2 separate regions of the Homo sapiens genome follow, and region 2 is linked to region 1. The links come from fine-mapping of genetic effects on gene expression. Tissue or cell type: whole blood. Region 1 holds a variant in brackets; the other region holds the start of a gene. All regions are shown on one strand. Distances are from middle to middle.

Region 1 (4,238 bases):
GCTCACACCTGTAATCCCAGCACTTTGGGAGGTCGAGGTGGGTGGATCACTGGAGGTCAGGAGTTTGAGACCACCTTGGCCAACATGGTGAAACCCTGTCTCTACTAAAAATACAAAAATTAGCTGGGCGTGGTGGCGCATGCCTATAGTCCCAGCTACTCGGGAGGCTGAGGCAGGAGAATGGCGTGAACCCAGGAGGTGGAGCTTGCAGTGAGCCGAGATTGCGCCACTGCATTCCAGCCTGGGCAACAGAGCGAGACTCCGTCTCAAAAAAAAAAAAAAGACCACAGGGTCAATTTCTATGTTTATTGAAAAGAACTGTCTATGGCAACAATCCCTAACCTTTTTGGCACCAGGGACCGGTTTTGGAGAAGACAATTTTTCTTTTTCTTTTTTTTTTAGAGACAGAGTCTTGCTCTGTTGCCCAGGCTGGAGTGCAGTGTCGTGATCTCGGCTCAATGCAACTGCCGCCTCCCAGATTCAAGCCATTCTCCCACCTGAGCCTCCCGAATAGCTGGGATTACAGGTGCACACCACCATGCCCAGCTAATTCTTGTATTTTTAGTAGAGACGGCGTTTCACCATGTTGGCTGGGCTGGTCTCAAACTCCTGACCTCCGGTGATCTGCCCACCTCAGCCTCCCAAAGTGCTGAGATTACAGGCATGAGCCACTGCACCCAGCAGACAACTTTTCCACAGACTGGGGTGGGGGATGGTTTCAGGATGATTCAACTGCGTGACATTTATTGTGCACTTTATTTCTATAATTATTACATTTTAATATGTAATGAAATAATTATGCCACTCTGCATAATGCAGAATCAGTGGGAACTCTGAGCTTGTTTTCCCGCAACTAAGACAGTCCCATCTGGGGGTGATGGGAGACAGTGAGAGATCATCAGTCATTCGATTATCCTATGACCCAGATCCCTCGATGTGCAGTTCACAATAGGCTTCATGCTCCTGTGAGAGTCTAATACCACTGCTAATCTGACAGGAGGCAGAGGTCAGGTGGTCATGCAAGCAAAGGAGAGTGGCTGTAAACACAGATGAGCTTTGCTTGCTCACCTGCTGCTAACCTCCTGCTGTGTGGCCTGGCTCCTAACAGGGCACAGATCAGTACCGGTCTGCGGCCTGGGGGATGAGGACCCCTGTTCTATGAGACTGTTGGGTGGGTTTCAGGATGACAGGTGCACACCACTGCACTCAGCCTCTCTTCCTTCTGCCTCAGCCACAGCTGGCACTTTCTCAGCTCCATCCTCAGGGGAGATGCTGAAACCTCTTGTGCCTGCCCGTGCTGTTGCTGTACATTTGTCACGACAGCCTGGCAGGGGCTCCCCATTGAGGCTGTCGGTCAGACTTGAAGTCCATCTGTTGTTCTTTTAAAAAAAAATTTTTTTTTAGATGGAGTTTCACTCTGTTACCCAGACTGGAGTGCAGTGGCGTGATCTCAGCTCACTGCAACCTCCACCTTCCGGGATCAAGTGATTCTCCTGCCTCAGCCTCCTGAGTAGCTGGGATTACAGGCACCCACAACCATGCCTGGCTAATTTTTTTGTATTTTTAATAGAGATGGGGTTTTGCCATGTTAGCCAGGCTAGTCTCAAACTCCTGACCTCAGGTGATCCACCCACCACAGCCTCCCAAAGTGCCGGGATTACAGGTGTGAGCCACCACACCCAGCCATGAAGTCCGTCTGTCGTTCTGTCTCTGTTGTTCTTCATTCGATCCGGAGTCGCCACCTCATTGTCAGTATGTTTGATTACAATCTGTCTGTATCATCCAGACAATCACTTAA[T/C]CTGGCTCATCAAGTAGTTAGACCTCTAGGTAAGTATCTCACTGCTGTCCCACCTGGGAGTCTATCTCAGATGGCTCTGCCCTGTGCTGTGATGCTATGATGGTTAACACCTGGTGTCAACTTGACCGGATGGAGGGAGATGCCTGGATGGCTGGTGAAGCATTGTTTCTGGGTGTGTCTGTGAGGATGTTATCAGAGGAGGTTGATATTTGAGTCCGTGGGCTGGGAGAGGAAGACCCATCCTCAATGTGAGTGGGCACCATCCCATCGGCCGCCAGCGTGGCTAGAACAAAGCAGGTGGAAGAAGGCGGGAGAAGCTGGCTTGCTCGCTGAGTCAGCTCCCTCTCTCTTCCCCTGCTGTGCCAATCACTTGGTTTCCTCTCCTCCTACCCTTGGACATCAGGCTCTAGGTTCTTTGGCCTTTGAACTCTGGCACTTGCACCAGTGGCCTCCCAGGTGTTCTCGGGCCTTTGGCTGCAGACTGAAGGTTGCACTGTCTCCTTCCATGATTTTTGAGGCTTTTGGACTTGGACTGAGCCACACTACCACTTTCTGTCTTTCCCGGGCTTGCAGACAGCCTACTATGGGACTTCGCCTTATAATTGTGTGAGCTAATTCTCCCAAATAAACTCCCTTTAATATTGTGTTAGGCTGTTCTTTTTTTTTTTTTTTCCTCAAGATGGTGTCTCATTCTGTCACCCAAGCTGGAGTGCAATGGTGTGATCTCAGCTCAGTGCAACCTCCACCTCCCAGGTTCAAGTGATTCTCCTGCCTCAGCCTCCCAAGTAGCTGGGATTACAGGCACCCGCCACCACACCTGGCTAATTTTTGTATTTTTAGTAGAAATGGGGTTTCAACATATTGGCCAGGCTGGTCTCGAACTCCTGACCTCAAGTGATCTGCCCGCCACGGCCTCCCAAAGTGCTGGGATTACAGGCGTGAGCCACCACACCCAGCTGTGTTAGGCCATTCTTGCATTGCTATAAAGAGATACCTGAGACTGGGTAATTTAGAAGAAAAGAGGTTTAATTGGCTCATGATTCTACAGGCTGTCCAGGAAGCATAGCAGAGATATCTGCTTCTGGAGGGGCCTCAGGAAGCTTCCAATCATGGCAGAAGACAAAGGCGAAGCAGGTGTCTCACATGGCGAAAGCAGGAGCAAGAGACAGCGTGGCAGGGGAGGTATCACACACTTTTGAACAACCAGATTTTATGTGAACTTTGAGTGAGAGCTCACTTATCACCATGGGGATGGTCCAAGCCATTCACGAAGAATCTGCCCCTATGATGCAAAACACTTCCCACCAGCCCCCACCTCCAGCACTGGGGATACATTTCAACATGAGATTTGGGTGGGGACAAATATCCTAACTATATCTCACACACACACACACACACACACACACACACGCATATCCTATCAGTTCAGTCCTGGACAACCCTGGCTAACACAGATTTGTGATGACCTGCAATATACCATGTCCTCATCCCTGGATCCTGTGAACATCACTTTATATGGCAAAAGACACTTTGCAGACGTGATGATGGATTTCAAGATGGGAGGAGCTCGTGTGGTAAAGAATTTGTCCCTGGTTCCTGCTAGGAAGTGTCTAAGTCCTTGGAATTTTCCAAGTGCTGTGAGTCTTTGTTATTCATCAGGGCCCTGGACCACACTTGGGTTTATATGAGGGGGTGGCTTAGGATGGGTGCTGGTCATGCCAGATACATCAACCATGAGGGTTGGAATTTGCAGCCACTTGACCAAAAGGGGGACTGGAGATAAAGTTCAATCACAAGGCCAACGATTCAGTCAATCTTTCCTGTGTAATGAGACCCCACTAAAAACTCCCGAGGCCTTGTGAGGTGGCTCATGCCTGTAATCCCAGCACTTTGGGAGGCCAAGGCAGGAGGATCACTTGAGCTCAGGAGCTCAAGACCAACCTGAACAATATGGTGAAACCCCGTCTCTACAAAAAATACAAACATTAGCTGGACAGGGTGGTGACATGTGCCTGTAGTTCCAGCTACTCGAGAGGCTGAGAGGTGGGAGGATCACTTGAGCCCAGAAGGTTGAGGCTGCAGTGAGCTATGATTATGCCACTGCACTCCAGCCTGGGCAACAGGGCAAGACCGGGTCTCAAAAAAAAAAAACAAACAAAACTGAAACACTGAAGGAGTAATTGGATCAATCCTGCCTACATACTGAAACCCCAAAAAAACTCAGGACACCGAGCTCTGGAGCTTCCTGGCTGGTGAACCCATCACCCTGAGAGTGGGGAAGGCATAGAGAGAGTGATGTGTGCTGACGTTATGGGGAAGGACACAGGAGCTCCGTGTTTGGGACCTTCCCAGACCTCACCCTATGTATCTTCTCATTTGGCAGGTCCTGATTTGTATTTTGTTAAGAAAACTGAAATCAGGGCCAGGCACAGTGGCTCAT
Region 2 (4,238 bases), 21 kb before region 1:
TGTGACCTCAGCCAAGGATTCAACCATTCTCAGCCTCAGTTTTCCCCTCTGTAAAATGGGCTGATGACAGCACCCAACTCATGAGGCCAAGATAGGATCCAATGAGATCACAGCATACCTGAGGTTTTTGGTGCCGGGCTGCGCACAGTGGGTCTTCGGATTCTAAACATTTATGAAACATCTACTCTGTGCCACGTCCCACTGAGAAATGCTAAGAGCCCATAACCCAGGCCTCAGCCTTCTCCTCTGCCAATGTCCCCAGGGCATCTGTAAAGTGCTCTGACTTTATTTATTTATTTATTTATTTATTGAAATGGAGTCTCGCTCTGTTGCCCAGGCTGGAGTGCAGGGGCACGATCTCGGCTCACTGCCACCTCCACCTCCTGGGTTCAAGCGATTCTCCCGCCTCAGCCTCCCGAGTAGCTGGGACTATAGGCACGTGCCACCATGACCAGATAATTTTTGTATTTTTAGTAGAGACGGGTTTTCACTATGTTGGCCAGGCTAGTCTCAAACTCCTGACCTCATGATCCGCCCGCCTCGGCCTCCCAAAGTGCTGGGATTACAGGCGTGAGCCACTGTGCATGGCCTATTTTTTTATTTTTTGAGATGGAGTCTCGCTCTGTCACCCAGGCTAGAGTGCAATGGCACCATCTTGGCTCACTGCAACCTCCACCTCCCGGGTTCAAGCGATTCTCCTGTCTTAGCCTCCCAAGTAGCTGGGACTACAGGCACCCACCACCACACCTGGCTAATTTTTGTATTTTAGTAGAGACAGGGTTTCACCATATTGATCAGGCTGGTCTCGAACTCCTGACCACAGGTGATCTGCCCTCCTCAGCCTCCCAAAGTGCTAGGATTACAGGCGTGAGCCACTGCGCCCGACCAAGTCCTCTGACTTTAAAGCATCTACTATGTGCTGAGGAGCATGGGACTTGGGGTCCTTCAGGCCTGGAGGTCACGGGCTACCTTCTTTCGCTGCTTGACTATAGGTAAGTCCCTTCTCTCGGAGCCTCAGGGAGGTGGGGTGTGGCGCGGCCAGGCTCTGATTAGCGGCAGCTCAAGCTGGCCCTTTTGACATTGTGAGAGGAACCCAGAGACCATCCTGGGACTGGAACTGTCCAGGGAGGCAGCTGGACAGACCTGAGTCCGAGTCCTGGCTTCTTCCTGGATGAGCAGCTCAGTTTGCTCATCTGTAAATTGGGAGTATTCAAAGCACCAGCACACAGTAGGTGCTCAGTAAACCTACTGGCAGGATGCTGGGGGACTGTCCTCATTCTGTGGGGCCTCTCTCAGTGGAACTGAGGTTCCAAGAGGGTAAGTCATTTGTCCCCATCACGCAGTGGTGGGACTGGAACTCAAACCCGGGACCCTTGAGCTGGGAGCCCATTTGCTCAATCATCTGGAGACATAATCTCATGGTGGGGTGTCTACTGGTAAGTGCTGGGTGGCAGGATCCCAACTCCAGGCCGTCCTTCTAACCCAAGAGGTCCTGCCTCTGCCTAGAGTCTTCCATGGCTCCCCAGGGCCCTCTATGATCGGCCCAGCGCACTCACCAAGCTCATCTCAGACCAGATGGCCTGCTTTCACTTCCCCAAATCAGGGACTCGAATGCCTCGAGATTCTGTCCACACTGCGGCCCCCACCCCCGCCCCCTCACCACCCACCACCTCCCTTCTCTGGTTGTGACCTCCTGCTGGTCATCCCTTGAGGCTCAGCCCAAGGTCGTTTCTTCCAAGGGCGCTTTGATCTCCACTTCCCATGGCCAACCCCCAACACACCAGATACGTACTCACTTAGTGGAGTTTGGAGCCTGTGTCTGTCCTCCTAGTGTGTTGGGGTCGACCAGAGCGATTGGCAGGGACCGTCAGAGACAGAGGTTTAAGCAGGAAGAGAGACACTTTCTTCTGAAAGTAGAGCCACTGACAGCTTCTATTTTCATAGACCTAAATATGGGCTTGCCACCCGGATAACATTACACGCATGGCCTCTCCTGGTGCTCCCCACACCCGGGTGAAGTCCGTGTTATTATTATCTCCATTTCTCAGGTAAGAGAATTGGGTGAGAACTAGAGATGTTAAGCAGCAAGTTCCCACAGGGCTGAAGGAGGTGAGTGGTAGCGTCAAGATGTGAACCACTGTTACTGCACACTGAATCATACCACTATGGCCGATCACAGAGGGCCCTGGGGAGCCACGGAAGGCTCTAGGCAGAGGCAGGGCCTCTTGGGTTAGAAGGACGGCCTGGAGTTGGGATCCTGCCACCCGGCACTTACCAGCAGACACCCCACCATGAGATTATGTCTCTTGATGATTGAGCAAATAGGCTCCCAGGTCAAATGTCCCAGGTTTGAGTCCCAGCAAGAAAAAAGGGAAGAGGAGAGAGAGGCAGAGGAAGGGGAAAAAAAAGACAGAAGGAAGGAGAGGGAGAAGGAGGAGTAGGAGGGAAGGAGGGAAGCGGGGGGAAAGAAAGATACGTGAGATAATATTCAGGTCAAATATGGACAGTTTTGGCTGGGCACGGTGGCTCACGCCTGTAATCCCAGCACTTTGGGAGGCTGAGGTGGGAGGATCACTTAAGCCTGGGAGTTCAAGACCAGCCTGGACAACATAGCAAGCCGTTGTCTCTACAAAAACTATAAAAACTAGCAGGGCATGGTGGTGCATGCCTGTGATCCCAGCTACTGGGGAGGCAGAGGTGAGTGGATCACTTGAGCCCAGGAGTTCAAGATCAGCCTGGGCAACACAGTGAGATGAAAGAAAGAAAGAGAGAGAGAAAGAGAGAGAGAGAGACCGGGCACAGTGGCTCACGCCTGTAATCCCAGCACTTTGGGAGGCCGAGGCAGGTGGATCATCTGAGGTCAGGAGTTCAAGGCCAACATGGTGAAACCCTGTATCTACTGAAAATACAAAAAAAAAAAAAAAAAAAAAAAAATTAGCTGGGCATGGTGGTGGGCACCTGTAATCCTAGCTACTCGGGAGGCTGAGGCAGGAGAATCGCTTGAATCCGGGAGGCAGAGGTTGCGGTGAGCCGAGATCGCGCCATTGCATTCCAGCCTGGGCAACAAAAGCTAAACTCTGTCTCACAAAAAAAAAAAAGAAAAGAAAAAAGAAAGAAAAACAGAAAAGAAACACCAAACTCCATCCCAGCCCCATCCTGGAACTAAGACTTCATCCCCATGTCCTCACAACATGGCCCAGCTGGACTTATTCCCAAGCTTCCTCCTCCTTCTCCTCGTGTGTCCCCATTGGTGGGACAGTCCGTCCATCCACCCAGACACCCCGGCCCAGGTCCAGGCCTTGTCCAAGCACTTCCCGATCTTCCACCCCACCGCTCACCCAGCACCCGCGCCTGGCTCGTCTCAAAAAAATAACCTGCTTCTCCCCATCCCCACAGCTGCTCCCTCTTCCCCCTGGACCAGGTGACATCCCCCTCTTAGGGTTCCCCCTGCCTGGTTTGCCTTGTCCCTGGGACTGCCTCCTCCATGGCCTCCCCACTCTCATCCTGCCCCCATGACAGCCTTCCCTGGGGCTCTACCTCCTGTCTTGCCCCCCAAAACAGACCCTCCAGGGTCCTCACTCCCACCTGGCCACCACGGCAGACCCCCCCTTAGGATCCCCAACCCGACCTGCCCTCAAGACTAATCCCCCAGTGACCCCACCCTGGCTTGGCCTCAAATGCTGTCCCTATGTCCACTCAGCAGCCCCCAGCCACCTCTCCAATGCTCAGCGGCCAACTCTTTCCCTTCCTTTTTGATTTTTTTTCTTTTTTTGAGACAGAGTCTTGCTGTGTCATCCAGGCTGGAGTACAGTGGCATGATCTCAGCTCCCCATAACCTCTGCCTCCCCGGATTCAAGTGATTCTCCTGCCTCAGCCTCCCAAGTACCTGGGATTACAGGCACGCGCCACTACACCTGGCTAATTTTTTGTATTTGTAGTAGAGATGGGGTTTCACCAAGTTGACCAGGCTGGTCTTGAACTCCTGGTCTCAAGTGATCCACCCACGTCGGCTTCCCGAAGTGTTGGGATTACAGGCATGAGCCACCGCACCCGGACCCTCCCTCACTTCTTTACCATCTTGGTCCTCGGCCATTACCCCAGATCAAGGTGGAGGGGACATTTTGGGACCCAAAATGAACAGCCTCAGACCACCAGAGTCAGTCATTCACTCAACAGGCATGCACCAAGGGTCACTCGGTCCAGGGTGACAGACAAGGCAGCATGGTCCCAGCTGTTCT

Evidence for each region. PIP is the estimated chance that this variant, and not a neighbour inherited with it, causes the effect.
Region 2: it holds the start of FCER2, and the variant in region 1 is fine-mapped to the expression of FCER2 in whole blood (TOPMed, PIP above 0.99).

The regions. Positions count from the first base shown.
Region 1 is chr19:7,721,296-7,725,533 of GRCh38, forward strand. No RefSeq gene overlaps it. Among named protein-coding and RNA genes, the nearest start is that of CLEC4G, 8.7 kb to the right of the region's middle. RefSeq lists an enhancer at 1-233. The variant T/C (reference allele first, on the strand shown) is at 1,799.
Region 2 is chr19:7,700,223-7,704,460 of GRCh38, forward strand. FCER2 (Fc epsilon receptor II) reads right to left here and starts at 1,909. Exons shown (of 11, transcript NM_001220500.2): 1 at 1,793-1,909. It overlaps LOC105372262 (a long non-coding RNA gene), which reads right to left. Exons shown (of 5, transcript XR_936296.2): 5 at 2,858-2,899. RefSeq lists an enhancer at 1,796-1,905.